2 linked regions of the Homo sapiens genome follow. The protein of the gene in region 1 interacts with the protein of each later gene in a biochemical or structural test. Each region holds a gene or a part of one and is shown in the gene's direction. Other genes may lie near its edges. The genes, in order: RLIM and REXO1.

Region 1 (7,476 bases):
CCCTCATTTTATCCCAGGCCTGTCTGACGTTATACTTCTGGGTTTGATTGCTGTCTAATTAGATAGGAAATGCAATGAAAATGAAAGGTTGTAGTAAAAAGTCTGTAGGTTATGTTGCATCAGAAACTTTTGTTAATACTTAAAGGTTATCCAGCAATCCCCCCTTTTCGTCTGTTACGTTCCTGTTTCAGCTATTATGCATGTTTACACATATTTATTGTTCTATTTCACAGGCCCTGTAATTGGATGGGCTCATTGATAGATGTTAAATGGATAGCTCCTTGTATATCATTTGATAAACTTAATTTAAAATCAGAAATGATTTTAAGAAATAGCTTAATAATTAAATGATCTGGAAATACTAGGCTGGTTGGATATCTTTGAGGTTAGTGAACATGTAGTGAGCCTTAATATAGTAGTAGGTCAAATGAGGCATCTGCATTTATGGAATTATATTATATGTACATTAATTTTTCCATGGCCATGGTGGATTAGAAATAGAGCAAATCACCAGCCAGCCTCCTGTTCTCTTCATTTACCATAGAGTGGATGACAAATTAGAGAATAAAAAGTCTTCTGTCAAACCCAAACCAATGAGGGCCTAGAATTTTGTGCCACTGCCTAGAACTGGACAGGTTTTTCTTTAACACAAAGATTTCTAAAACCTATGGCCCATTGATTTCAGAAAGTATCTAGTTTACATAATAAATTGAAGTTCTGATGTCCAATATAAGAAAGTAATAACACTTCTGTATCTATTTTTCTTTCATTTTTTTTTCTCAGCCTCAAACATGAAAGTTTCCCAGATAATCCAGCAATTCATTTCTCTTTTTATCAATTGAGGTATTTTTATTTATTTATTTTTTATTTTTTTATTTTTTTGAGACGGAGTCTCACTCTGTCGCCCAGGCTGGAATGCAGTGGTGCACTCTCGGCTCACTGCAACCTCCACCTCCTGGTTTCAAGCAATTCTCTTACCTCAGCCTCCCAAGTAGCTGGGAGTACAGGCGCTCTCCACCACGCCTGGCTAATTTTTGTATTTTTAGTAAAGATGGGGTTTCACCATATTGGCCAGGCTGGTCTCGAACTCCTGACCTTGTGATCTGCCCACCTTGGCCTCCCAAAGTGCTGGGATTACAGACGTGAGCCACCGCGACTGGCCAATTGAGGTATTTTTTAAATATACCTCAATTGGGGGAATATATTTATGAACTTGTGGTTTTTCTCCTGACATATATAGTTGGTATTTTTGCTCTAGATTTTCTTATATTTTAATGTTCCAACACAAGGGTTTTTTTTTTTTGGTTTTTTTTGTTTGTTTGTTTGTTTGTTTGTTTGTTTTTTGGTTAGGAGGGCAGGACGAGTTTTGCTCTGTCGCCCAGGCTGGAGTGCGGTGGCACGATCTTGGCTCACTGCAACCTCCGCCTCCTGGGTTCAAGCGGTTCTCCTGCCTCAGCCTCCCGAGTAGCTGGGATTACAGGCACGTGCCACCACGCCTGGCTAACTTTTGTATTTTTACTAGAGATGGAGTTTCACCATGTTGGCCAAGCTGGTCTTGAACCCCTGACCTCAGGTGATCCGCCCGCCTTGGCCTCCCAAAGTACAGGGATTACAGGCCTGAGCCACCGCGCCTGGCCACCAATCCAAGAGTTTAATTTCATTAGTCACAGTAGCACCTACATATCTGTGAGACAAATAATCTGTAGGCAGAGAGCACTTGGTGCATTACATAGATTGGTGGATTTCTTGCAATAATTTTGCAACTACAGGTTGGTTTGCTTTTATAACATTTGAGAGTCTAATGGCGTTTCCATGATGATGAACATGTTACTTCCTGGGAGAAAGGAAGTATTTGTGTTTGATGTTTAAAATTTTTTTCTGGAATGACAAAAGGTCCCTTCTGATCTCCCCTTGACTATAGGAGGAAAAGTGTTAACTACAACTTTTGTTTTTTATTGACCAATGATCCCTTTAGTGCTGATTATAACTAAGGAGACCATATGAATTATCTAAACTGGGACACTTTTGAGAGTGAAAGGGAGAGCCATATTACTGATTACTTCAGTACAAGTGTAAACCCTTACTCTTCTGGACAAACCAAAGATATATTGTCACCCTCTTCATGTTATTTTTATGTAGGTATACTAGTTCAGGAAGGACAATTGTCAGCATGGTTGGTCTTAAATACAAAATTACTTCCTCAAATAACTGATTGGTATAGATAATACTTTCTTTTTTAGTTAAGTGATTTTAATTTTTTTTTTTTTTTTTTTTTTTTTTTTTTGAAACGGAGTCTCGCTCTGTCGCCCAGGCTGGAGTGCAGTGGCGCGATCTCGGCTCACTGCAAGCTCTGCCTCCCGGGTTCACGCCATTCTCCTGCTTCAGCCTCCCGAGTAGCTGGGACTACAGGCGCCCACCACTACGCCTGGCTAATTTTTTTCTATTTTTAGTAGAGACGGGGTTTCACTGTGTTAGCCAGGATGGTCTTGATCTCTTGACCTTGTGATCTGCCCGTCTCGGCCTCCCAAAGTGCTGGGATTACAGGCGTGAGCCACCGCACCCGGCTAAGTGATTTTAATTTTAAAAATTGGCTTCAATCTTTAAAAACCTGATTTTTGATGGAAAAATCTTAGGTCCTTAAAATAGTGCCTTAGTTACTGATGAACACCAACATTGTCAGTTATCAGTGATTTTTACCTTAGTAACTTAAACACATGCACTCCTTGGGTTTTTGAGTCATTTTCTTTTTGACTTCTTAGGAATAATGAGAGAAGCAAGTCAAAACGAGTTTATGGATAAGACCAAATTATAATTTAGTGGCATAGCTTGATAATAAAAGAACATAAAACGGGTAATTGAAGATTAAATTCACTGTCTAGATTAAAGTATTTGACTGAGATGAAATGTCATAATGGTTTCCTTTTTTAACTAACTTGATCCTGTAGATCAACCGCATTTGGCATGGTCTTCAGTCCTTTGATTTACTGAAGTTCTTAACACTCTTTCAGTTTTAACTGTTTTAGAGCGTTTTAGTAAAAGTTGTTTGAGCTGCAAGTCGGTGCGTACATGAGGAACATTCCTGAGTCCTTTTAGTTTTTCTCTGCTGTCCTTTTCAACTGGTAAAGATAGAAGAATGTAAGTGGAGGCTAAGCTAACTGCCATTCAGATATTTTATAATCTCTTATTGTTATGGTAGCATGAGCAGTGGGGGATACCTTGGTAGCATTTTCTGATAGGCCACTCTTGGAAATTATCAACAAATTTTTTAGTTGGTGAGAGGTATCATGCAATAAGGAAAGTCAGTGAGACATTAACCCTGCCTGTTCTTTTTTTTTTTTTTTTTTAGGAATGCTTTATATTTCTTTTCAAAAAGATAACTGCGTGAGTGGAGATAGAAGTACATTGAGTGAAATGGTAGTGAGAAAAGCAGAGCTTATAAGCTTATGTCCTAGTTATTTGTGCTGTTTCCTAAACTTAATATTTCTTAATATCGTAATGTGGTGTAGGTTATATCTTATTTACAGTTACAGATTCATAGAACTGGAAAGTACCTTGCAGATGGTTTAATCCAATACTCTAATATTGATGGAGACTTCTCTGGCACAAGAGGTTAAATGAATTGGCCAAATCCACATAACCAAGTTACAACCAAGACTGGATTTCAGTATCTCTTTTTTCCTTTCACAGAGCTGAGTTTCACCCTGCTACCCATGTGTAGAATAAAAAAAGATACCTGGTTGTTAGCAAATATTTTTCTGTTACAAATACCATAACATTTTAATTAAACATTCTATATATGAAGAATCCCCAACACTTTTGGTGCCTACATACGTAATGATATGATGGTACTTTTTGTTTTCTGGCCTTAAATTCAGCAGTTCTTTGTGATTTAACTTTTAAAAAACTGAATAAAGTATTTTTCATTTTGGTGATGGTATTTAACATTTTCTTCATTGACACAGATCACATGTCACTAGTTCTTAAAGGACTCCTTTATGAAGTTCTTTTTTGTTTTTTTTGTGTGTGTGTGTTTTTGGTGTGTGGTTTTTTGTTTGTTTGTTTTGAGACGGAGTCTCGCTCTGTCACCCAGGCTGGAGTGCAATGGCACGATCTCTGCTCACTGCAACCTCCACCTCCCAGGTTCAAGCAATTCTCCCACCTCAGCCTCCTGAGTAGCTGGGATTACAGGCACCTGCCATCATGCCTGGCAAATTTTTGTATTTTTGTAGAGACAGGGTTTCACCATGTTGGCCAGACTGCTCTTGAACTCCTGACCTCAGGTGATCCGCCCGCGTCGGCCTCCCGAAGTGTTGGGATTACAGGCATGAGCCACTGTACTCAGCCTCCTTTATGAGATTCTTGATGAAGCTCTGTTGCAAACAAAATGGATTGCCCTTCTCTTGTCAGTGTGACACATTTTTGTGTTCATACCCATAATTTTTTAAAAATTGGCATGTCCTGCTTTAGAACTTTATTATAGAATTTGGAGCTTGAATGAACACATATGCACAAGGTGAAATATTCAACATGATTTAGTAGTTAGTTGATGTTACGTTACCTTAATTCCTCCCTCCCACCCACCCCACTTTTTTTAAAAAACGAGGTAATTTCTTCCATATGACTTTTTAAATTTTGATATGGAGTCTCTGTCACCCAGACTAGACTGCTGTGACGTGATCTGAGTTCACTGCAACCTCTGCCCCCAAACTCAAGTGATCCTCCCACCTCAGCCACATCAGCTCCCAAGTAGCTAGGACCACAGATGCGCGTTACCATGCCCAGCTAAGTTTTTGTGTCTTTGGTAGAAACGGTTTCACCATGTTGCCCAGGCTGGTTTTGAACTCCCGGGCTCAAGCGATCCGCCGACCTCGACCTCCCAAAGTGCTAGGATTACAGATGTCGGCCACCACACTCGGCCAGCACCATGCCCAGCCAAGATGACTCACTTTTTAAAATTGGTTTTTACACAGGCATTTCACTTGGTGTTTCAGAATTTAGTTTTGTAAGGTCTGTTTTATTAACAGTATTTTTGGATGCCTTAAGTCTCCTTAATTGGGTACTATAATGTAGTGTGTCCATCAAATATAACATGCCTGTGTTTATACTTAGCACCAGGTCTCCTGACCTGTTAGTACTGAACAATATGTTTTAAATAACTTTTTGCCTTAACATTATAACAATTAAATTTTTTAAAAGTTTGGTGTGCATGGATTAGAAGAATTAAATGAGATACTACATTTAGCAGTAATCAGAAACAGTCATTTGCATAATTTATATTAATATATAATAATGACTAGAAGAAGTTGAGATTATTAACAATACTTTAAAATTCTCAAAGTGAATAAAATCTGTTTTAAATAAATCTCAGGGTTGGTGTTCTTGCTGGCCTTTCCTCCCCAGAATTAAACTTACTGGATACAGTCCCATTCATTGACCAGATGAGTAGCTCTTTGAAACGATTGGGCAAAATTTCTCATTTGGTTTCTTGTTTCCAGGAATGGATTTGGATATATTGGCACACAGTACTCTAAAAGAAATAAGGTTAATAAAATATGCTGTTTATCTAAGGAGCAACTGTATTTTTAAAAATTACTAAAAGTTGACTTATTTAAAAATAAGTCCATCTAGGTTTGTGCTGCTTACAAAAGGTGTTTTGTCATTTTGGAATTTTTCATACAGGGAGTGAACATGGTATAAAAAGCTCATAGATTGAATAGTTTAGTCATACCTATTGGGATTGAAGGAAGGAATGTGTTTTAAAGTATAGAGTCTTGGGATATGTTGGGAGGCAGTTGTCTTAGTGAAAAGTTGACTGGATTTGGAATGCAGAGACCTGGATTTAATTACTGGCCCTTTCCCACTTACTAGTCACATGGTTTTTGGTAAATCACTTTCTTTCTCTGTGCTTCTGTTTGTCACCTGTAGAGGTGGTGATTCCTAATTCATGGGATTATTGTGAAGATTAAATGAAATACAGGTGTAAGGGCTATGTAAATACAGGGTGATGAGTATTGCTTATAGCCAGAGAGAGACCTAAGTGACTTCAAAACAGTTATATTTCATTGTTTAAATTACTGTATGTTTCACGGGTAATCTTTTCATAGAAAAACAGCTGATGCTAATCATATGCTGAAGTCAGAATTTCTGACTTATCTGAGATAACTAAAGAAATGGATTTATGACCTTCTCTTTTACGATGATGTTGAAAGATCCCAGCGGTGTATAAGGATTCTCTTTTTCCTCTTGCTACTTAAGCTAGAAATGTACCACAATGTTACTCACTGCAAAGTAGAATCTGGAGACCTGTTTTGTTAATGTTATTCTTCACTAATATTTTCACACCCAAAATGGAGATAGAGCTGTATTTGATCATTTGGAGTATGGTTTTCTGGTATTTTTGGCATGCCTAAACTTTAAAATGTTTGTTTGCACTTAGTAAACAATAGTGGCAGATTATATCTACCTGGGGCAGAACTTGTGGTTTTTAGATTTATTCCATTTCTTTCTTTTATGCCGCTTAGATAGTGAAGGTCTGCTTAAAATAAGACCAGGCTCATTGGGTGTGTGAGAGTAAAATTAGTTTACAAGGCATTTGAGAGCATTGCCTTGATTTCCATTTTCTTTGCAAATGTAATTATGTCTAGTCCAGGGGACCTCTGCAGGTATTGTAGCCATAGCTTACTCTTTGAATTCCCTTATAAGGGAGGGAGTGCCTTGCCAGTGCTGAAATCTCTTGACCCCCAATTCCAGCCCAGGGGAAATGCTAAGTTAAGGCAGAAAGGATGGAGGCTTTGAAATAAGTGTGTTGCAGGAGTATCATGGGGAAAATATTTTCCTTGATTGTCTCTGGCATATATATGGAAGGGTAGCAGGAAAGGAGACAGCAGCATATTATTATTATTGAAGAGGTAGTGATTTGGATTTGTTCACATGTTGCTTTATGAGTGTGTCTCATTAAAATTTTGAATTAAATAAAATTTAGAATTCCCTCTTTCATGGAACGGAATCCAAGCTCATCAAGCAGGAGCTGTTTAGGATTCAAAAATCTCTGAAATCAGTGTCAGGAAAATTTTGAATGGAGGTAAAATGTTTTGTCTCTAGTTTCTATGTAGGAAATGGTAGAAATTCTAAAAGGTCAAGAATGAATCTTGAAGATTCATGAGCATAGGAAAGACTTATCTATCCCATGAGTATTGAACATTGTAGAGTATTGAACCTTATTGTTTTATTTTTGGAAAACATAAAGGGGATGCAAATAGTGGGTTTGTAGAGCATGAAAAATATATTGGGGACATTTGAAACTCTCCCTATTTGGGATTTCTCTATCTTACAAAGAAATACTTTAAAGCTGTGCTGCCCAATATGGTAGCCATTAACCACTATGTGACTGTTAGACACTTGAAATAAGACTAGTGAAACTGAAATTTTAAGTTTTTTTTTTATTTTAAGCTTAAAAAACTGAAGTAGTGTAAAATG
Region 2 (7,476 bases), on another chromosome or scaffold:
CCTCAAACTCCGTCTGGTTCAGACATGTTATGACAAGTTAGTATCAGTTTATTTTGGGGCAAAAAAACTTGAAAGCCATGCAAGTTTCGTCACAACGCACGTTTTCCATGAGCTTTTTGAAGACACCTTATCTTTGACGCTGCCCGAGTTCCAGAGGGAGCTGGCCCTGCCCCTTCCTGTTAGATTGCCACGGTGCTGGGGCGAGGGACAGAGCAGGTCAGCAGCCCCAGGGTGACCTCCCCCAGAGTGCGGCAGACGGCCTGCTGCGCCGTGTGCGGCCTGGGCCTGGGCCGGTTGTCCAGCTCTGAGCTCCAGTGTCCTCTGTAGCCCGGAGACAGTAGCGCTTGTCAGGCCCCTGTGCAGACGTGGCGAGGTAGTGCAGGACAAGCAGAGAGCCTGGCTCCGGGGTCAGCAGCCAGGAGAGTCCCAGTTGCTCCAGTCCCAGAGCCTCCCCAGAGGAGGGGCTTTGAGGAAGATTAGGCGTAGTGGGATTGGATTGGAGTGCCAGTGTAATCGGGGTAGTCCCGCCCACCCGTGCCTTATCAGGGCTGAGGACATAGCCTGGGCACCGGGAGACACTGGGAGTGGGGGAGCCTGGAGCCACATGGCATTGAGGACCACTGCCCCCTGCTGCTTCCCCCCAGTGTGCCCAGCAGCTCAGAAGGCAGCCAGGGAGGTGGTGCCTCCGGCCCCCGAGCTCCAGCCACCCTCTCCCAAGCCTGCCCGGGGTCGCCTGCTCCAGGTGCCCCCGCTGTGCTGCCAGGCCTTAGCATTTGTGGTGACGCAGGTGGAGCCCCCGAGGAGGGGTCCCGCGGTGCCCCCGGCCCGGCCCCCGACGGCGCAGGAGGTGTGCTACCTGCGGGCCCAGCAGGCGCAGAGGGCATCGGCGAGCTTGCTGCAGGCCCCCGCCAGGCTGGCAGAGAAGTCGCCCTCCGTCCACATTTCCGCCCCTGGCGAGAAGAGGAGGATCGCCCACATCCCCAACCCCCGCCTGGCTGCAGGTGAGTCCTGGCCCAGGGGGCCTGTGCCGGGGGGCCGTGGGCATGTGGGCAGGAGAGGTGGCACCCTGAGGTCTCTGAGCTCACCTGAACCACATGGTGCTTGCTCATGGGATGACTTTGGGCCCCCTCCCTGGGGCCCTCAGCCTGCCTGTCTGTGAAATGGGGACTGTTGAGGGGTGCAGGAGGCCTGGCCCAGCACCTTCCTTCCCTGACCCAGCTCCGGGGTTACTAGGAGTCCAACAGCCTGCTGGGGACTGGGCTGAACCAGGGCCTGAGCCTGTGGTTCCAGGGAATGGGGAGCCATGTCGGGGTACCTGGCATTGGGTGGGGAGCAGGCTTCTGCAGGTGTGGCTTTCTCCTGGCGTGTGAGTGGGGGGCGTGGCCTCTGATGGAAATGAGTGCTGTCTTCCCAGGAGTGGGGCTGTATTTCCTTTACTCCGAGGGGCACTTCCCCCCCAGCAGGGTCTTGTAGAAAGTCGGGCCAGGCCTCAGTGGTGGGTGGACAGGACCCTTCACGGGGGGTTGTCCTGTCTCCTGCGTCTTCACATCAGTGGTGTCTGTAGAGCGAGAAAGTATCCCTGGAGGCAGGTCACAGATGAGGGTCCCCCAGAAAGCTCCTAAAAAATGCAGGTTCTGGTCTGGAGGCTGGGAAAGGTCTGTGTGTCTGGCAAGCTCCCTGGGAGGGCATGGCTGCTGTCCGAGGACCACCCTGAGCAGCCTGCTGGTTTGGAGCCCCTGCCTCCCTGGCGCTGGCTGGAGAGCCTTAGGGCCAGCCCCGGCGATTCCCCTGCAGATCCCATGGATCCCACGGCCCTCCTTAGGGAGAGCTCTCCAGGCTACTCTGACCTCCCCTCCCCAGAGCCCCCTCACGGCTGAGACCTTAGCCCCAGGGAGGGGAAATCATTGAGTTGGGCCTATCCCAGGACCCCACACGCTTCCCGTCTGTGTCTCCGCGCTCGGGTTGTCCTGTTGCTGATCTGTGGTGGGTGCTGAGCTGTCGCAGTGCCCTTGGGGCCCGCCGCCTGAAGGGAGTCTGGCGTCCCAAGTGCTGGCAGTGCCGCAGGGCGGGCTCATCTGGCTTGGAGGACTCCTGTGGCTGCCTGGGCTCGCCCCCAGCGTGCAGCCGAGGGAGTCTGGAGGTTCTCTGTCCGTTCCTGAAGAGCAAACCCTCCACTGCAAGAGGCGCGTGCCAGCCTGGCGGGCAGCCTGCTTCCTTGCTGGGCGGCCCGCGGTAGCATGAGCAGACTCATCCTGCCTCCCTTGCACCTTCCAGGGCCAGATGGCATTTCGAGGGATGTTGCTCTGAGACTAGGGCCAGATGTCCCTGCTCACAGCTCCCCTTCCTGGGTCGGTGCCGAGCCCCCAGTCCAGAAGCCCCCCTGCCACACAGACGTACATGCCCAGGTTGCAGCTGCCCGCGTGGCCAGCCCTCCGAAGCAGCCCCTGCAGGCCTGGCCTCCTCCCTCTGGTTTGTGACTTCATCAAAGGGCAAGGCAGAACACAGAGGCCGCAGGGCAGGGCAAAGCCAATGAGCAGGTGGGGGCACCCGAGACCCTTCGGTCCTCTGTCCGGGAGCCAGGGCCTTTCCCTCAGACATCGACGCCTTGGGCTTGGGGTCAGAACACGTGGCAGAGGCCTGGACCACCCCACCGGTGACGTGTCCTCAGCGGCCTCCGCAGCCTGACCTGTGTCCTCTGCCTCGATGGACTTGCCTGAAGGCAGCTAGAGCCTGATGCCATTGCGCAGCCCCAGCCCCTCACCCTGGCCCGGCCCCCTGCACGCGGAGATGCACGTGCTGCTGGCGCTGAGCGGCCGCGGCTGCCTGGTGCTCCGCCACGTGGTGATGGGCAGCCACTCGCCCTGTGCCCACACCCCCTGTGCCCCGCCAGCCCCCACAGGTGCCAAGAGGACCCTTGCGGCCAGCGGCAGCCAGTCCTCCAACGGCCCTGAGCCAGGTGGCCAGCAGCTGAAAACACGCACATTGTCGGGGATGGCGTCCAAGACTACCACCACCATCATCCCTAAGCGAATCGCCCACAGTCCATCCTTACAGGTAGCCCCTCCCATCTCGGCCAGGACCACCACCCCCAAGACCACGCCCTGAGGCCCGGCCACATGGGACCTGCGGAGGGCCAGCCTCGCCCCTGCCCTGCGGGCCTTCGTGCTCCACACCGCAGTACAGCCTTCACCTTCCCTCCCCATGCCTTGGTGTTTTTTTTTTTTTTTTGAGATGGAGTCTCGCTCTGTCGCCCAGGCTGGAGTGCAGTGGCACGATCTTGGCTCACTGCAAGCTCTGCTTCCTGGGTTCACGCCATTCTCTGGCCTCAGCCTCCTGAGTAGCTGGGACTACAGGCGCCCGCCACCACGCCTGGCTGTTTTTGTATTTTTAGTAGAAACGGGGTTTCACCATGTTAGCCAGGATGGTCTCGATCTTCTGACCTCGTGATCCACCCGCCTCGGCCTCCCAAAGTGCTGGGATTACAGGCGTGAGCCACCATGCCCGACCGCCCTGGCGGTGTTTTTTTGTTTTGTCTTGTTTTGTTTTTTTGGTTGGTTGGTGTTTTTTTTTTTTGTTTAGAGACAGGGTCTCTGTTGCCCAGGCTAGAGTGCAGGGGCGCAATCATGGCTCACTGCAACCTCGACCTCCTGGGCTCAAGTGATCCTTCCACCTCAGCCTCCTGAGTAGCTGGGACCACAAGCCGGTGTCATCACACCCCAGCTAATAATTTTGTTTTTTATTTTGTAGAGACAGGGTTTTGCCACGTTGTCCAGGCTGATCTTGAACTCTTGTCCTCAAGTGATCCTCCTGCCTCAGCCTCCCAAAGTGCTGGGATTATAGGCGTGAGCCACCACGCTTGGCCTTGTTTTGTTTTTAATTAATAGACTTTATGTTTTTTGAGCAACTTTAGGTTTCTAGGAAAATTGAGCAGAAAGTACAGCAAGTTCCCTTGTGCCCCCATGGCCTCAGTTTCCCATGACCTTAGTTCCGCTGCCCTCAGTTTCCCCTGCTGCTCCTGTCTTGCCTTGGCGTGTCTGTCCCTACTGCAGCCAGGCTGATCTGTCCCAGCGCACCTCACTCTTGCCTCCAGCCATGGGCACGGCCTCATCGCGTCTGCGTTCCCCGCTGGAGGCCTTGTGGAGGCCCTCACCCATGGCAGCTTTTGCCTTCCCTCTAGAGTTTAAAGAAACCCATTATCCCCAAAGAGTTTGGGGGCAAAGTCCCCACCGTCATCCGCCAGCGCTATCTCAACCTGTTCATCGAGGAGTGTCTCAAGTTCTGTACCTCCAACCAGGAGGCCATAGAGAAGGTGAGGTCCTGGAGTTCCTATCTGGCCGGTCGGGTGGGGACTAGGGGTCCAGGGTGGTCCCCAGACATCCCCCGGCCTCTCAGCCGCAGCTGTGACCCGGAGCTGCCTGGGAGAGATGCAAGTCCCCGACCCCATGGCGACCCCACCGCTGGGGCTCCCCGGCACCAGGCAGGCATGGCCTCAGCTGGGCACCGCCTGTCCCCCAGGCACTGAACGAGGAGAAGGTGGCCTATGACCGCAGCCCCAGCAAGAACATCTACCTGAATGTGGCCGTGAACACCCTCAAGAAGCTCAGGGGCCTGGCCCCCAGCGCTGTGCCCGGCCTCAGCAGTGAGTCCTGGCGGGTGGGCGGGGGAGGCTCAGGGTTGCTCTTGGGGTGGCAGCTGGGCTGGGACCCTCGCTGGGACCTTCACAGCCCTGAGCTCAGCCACAGTCTCAGACAAAAGGAAAGCGCGGTGCTGTGGGGGGGCTGCCTGCTGCCTGGTTCCCAGGCTTCTGTGTAGGACGGACCTGGCCCTGGTGTCCTCGCTGTCAGCCGCCTTCCTCCGCTGAGTGGGGTCTCCAAGCCGAGCCGAGGGGCCGCCTGCTAATGGAGCTGCGGCAGCTTCTTCAAAGCAGGAGGCCCAGGGCTGGGCGAGCTCCATGCATTAAGCTCTGGGGAGGAAGAAAGCGGAGACCTGGGCGTTTCATTGCAGCCTCTCCAGGCTGCATTAAGCTATCACCGGCCCCTGCCCCCGTCCCCGCCTGCATTAGCACTCGGAGGGGCCCTGGGTTGGCGTCGCAGGCTGGGTGGCCCATGAAGGCTCAAAGCCCTCGAAAGCCATTAGATCCCCCGTGCTGTTCTCCCCGCCCTTCCCCCTTCGCTTGAGGGGAGGGGACGAAGACTTTGGGTGTGGGGCCTCCGTGCAGCTCTGGGGCCTGCAGAGCTGGCGGCTGCCCTGCGTCCCTGGCTCACCGCATGTCTGCCTCTCCTGTTCGGGTCAGGCTGGAACCCGGGGTCAGTGGGGTGCTGTCCCAGAAAGGGGGAGTTGAGGCAGAGGTCTGAGGAGGGCAGGGTGGGTGGGAGAGCAGGCGGGGCAGGGGTCTGAGCCAGCTACTTCACACCCTCCTCCCCTCCCTCCCTTCCTTCCAGAAACCAGTGGCCGCAGGGTTGTGTCCCACGAGGTGGTGTTGGGGGGCAGGTTGGCCGCCAAGACCAGCTTCTCGCTCAGCCGTCCAAGCAGCCCCCGGGTGGAGGACCTGAAAGGTAAGGCCCTGCCCCTGCTCTGCCACACGGTGCTTCGTGGGCCTCTGCCGGCCCAGCCCCTGCTGTGCCACACGGTGCTTCGTGGGCCCCTGCCGGCCCAGCCGCCTTTCCCGGTGGTGTCTACCGCCCCGTGGGCCATCCCAGGCAGGGGCTGACCACTGTGCCTGTCCACAGGGGCTGCCCTGTACAGCCGCCTCAGGGAGTACCTGCTCACCCAGGACCAGCTCAAGGAGAACGGCTACCCCTTCCCGCACCCAGAGCGGCCCGGGGGCGCAATCATCTTCACAGCTGAGGAGAAGAGGCCCAAGGACTGTGAGTCGCTGGCCTGCGACGGCCTAGGTGGGCAGGTGCGGGATGTGGGCAAGGCCGGGCATGCGGGCCCCAGCGTGAGCCTCAGCTTCCACCTGGGTCCCCACCCACAGCTTCCTGCAGGACCTGCTGCCGCTGTGGCACCGAGTACCTCGTGTCCTCTTCAGGCCGCTGCATCCGGGACGAGGAGTGTTATTACCACTGGGGACGGCTGCGCCGGAACCGGGGTAAGGCCTTACCCGGGTCCTTCCCCTTCCCACCCATGGCCCCCGGAACCTGGGCCCTCCCTTGAGGCCCCCAGAACTGGGGTAAGGCTTTACCCAGGCCCTCCATCCCACTCAGGGTCCCTGGGCTGCACCGTCTTTGGCAGAGCCGGGGCTAGCCCTTGGCCTCATTTTCTCTCCACCTGTTCTTTATGCAAAAGTAAGACAAGAGCTTTCCCATGACAAGGTTCAAATGCCACCACCTGAAAGGCCCTGTGTCCCTGCCTTCCTGTGCCCTTGGTCCATGGAAATGTGGAGGTTGCTGGCCCCAGGAGCGGAGGGGCTTGTCCCACCCTTGGCCTGGTGGTTCTATTCAATCCCCCAGGCAACCACGCAGCCACGCTCAGGGCACATGGCCAGCCTTGCACAGCCCTGTGGCGGCCCCTAAAGCCATCGCCTCAGGGATACCTGGAGGGTGCTGCCCGGGGCAGCGCTGCCAAGAGGCCTCTGCAGAGGGCACTGGTCTCCCTGGATCCAGGCCTGGGCGTCCTGGCTGCCACACGACTGCCGGGGCCTGGTCTGCTTCCAGCTCCACCAAGAGGCTGAGGCCTCCTGTCCTCAGTCCTCACTCCCTAGTAGGGCTCGGTAGATGCAGGTGGTCAGTGCCCCGGGGGCTGTGGAGTGGGCCTGGCCGGGCCCTGACTGTGTGTCTGTGTCCCCTGCAGTGGCCGGAGGCTGGGAGACCCAGTACATGTGCTGCTCGGCTGCCGCCGGCTCTGTCGGCTGCCAAGTCGCAAAGGTGAGCCCTGGCGTCCCAGTCCCCTCTGCCTGTTCTCAACAGACTTCTGCCTCCCCATCGTTGGTGTGGGGTCTCGGGACACAGCACAGTCCTGGGCTCAGGGTCTGGGCCCCCGGGCAGCCTTTCTTGTGTTACCCAGAGAACGTAGCACCCGTAGGCCCCAGGCCCTGTCCCTGGCCACTTCCCATCCTGGGAAGCCGTCCTCCCTGTGTCTTCTTGGCAAGCCCCCTTCCCCACCTGCTCACCAGGGTCCCAACCAGTGAATGGGCGTGATGGATGGATAGGATGGTCCCGAAGGGCTCAGAGATGTGCTGCTGCTGCCACCCCCGCCCCCACTGCACCCCGAAGCTGCCCTCACCTGCCTTCTCCACCCCCAGCAACACGTGCAGGATGGCCGGAAGGAGCGCCTTGAGGGCTTCGTGAAGACCTTTGAGAAAGAGCTCTCAGGAGACACCCACCCGGGGATCTACGCCCTGGACTGCGAGATGGTGAGGCTGTTCTCTGCCCAGCGTCGGGTTCAGGATTGGGGAGGACCTGGCCTGGTGCGGCCGCCCCATCTGGCCCCATCTGGGCCTGGCTCACCGGCCAGCGCTCAGGGTTTCTCTCGCAG

Evidence for each region.
Region 2: of the proteins of RLIM (region 1) and REXO1, one has a biochemical effect on the other in vitro, tested with the Homo sapiens proteins (one study listed by BioGRID).

The regions. Positions count from the first base shown.
Region 1 is NC_000023.11:74,604,296-74,611,771, reverse strand, and holds part of RLIM (E3 ubiquitin-protein ligase RLIM), read left to right. Parts: intron 1-7,476. UniProt on the Homo sapiens protein: E3 ubiquitin-protein ligase.
Region 2 is NC_000019.10:1,817,097-1,824,572, reverse strand, and holds part of REXO1 (RNA exonuclease 1 homolog), read left to right. Parts: coding exon of another isoform or gene 1-36; exon of another isoform or gene 37-464; intron 465-787; coding exon 788-1,001; intron 1,002-1,315; exon of another isoform or gene 1,316-1,558; intron 1,559-1,880; exon of another isoform or gene 1,881-2,484; intron 2,485-2,890; coding exon 2,891-3,054; intron 3,055-4,177; coding exon 4,178-4,309; intron 4,310-4,392; coding exon of another isoform or gene 4,393-4,404; exon of another isoform or gene 4,405-4,515; coding exon 4,516-4,639; intron 4,640-5,441; coding exon 5,442-5,555; intron 5,556-5,729; coding exon 5,730-5,867; coding exon of another isoform or gene 5,868-5,894; intron 5,895-5,977; coding exon 5,978-6,091; intron 6,092-6,792; coding exon 6,793-6,866; intron 6,867-7,114; coding exon of another isoform or gene 7,115-7,129; exon of another isoform or gene 7,130-7,237; intron 7,238-7,243; coding exon 7,244-7,354; intron 7,355-7,476. UniProt on the Homo sapiens protein: Seems to have no detectable effect on transcription elongation in vitro.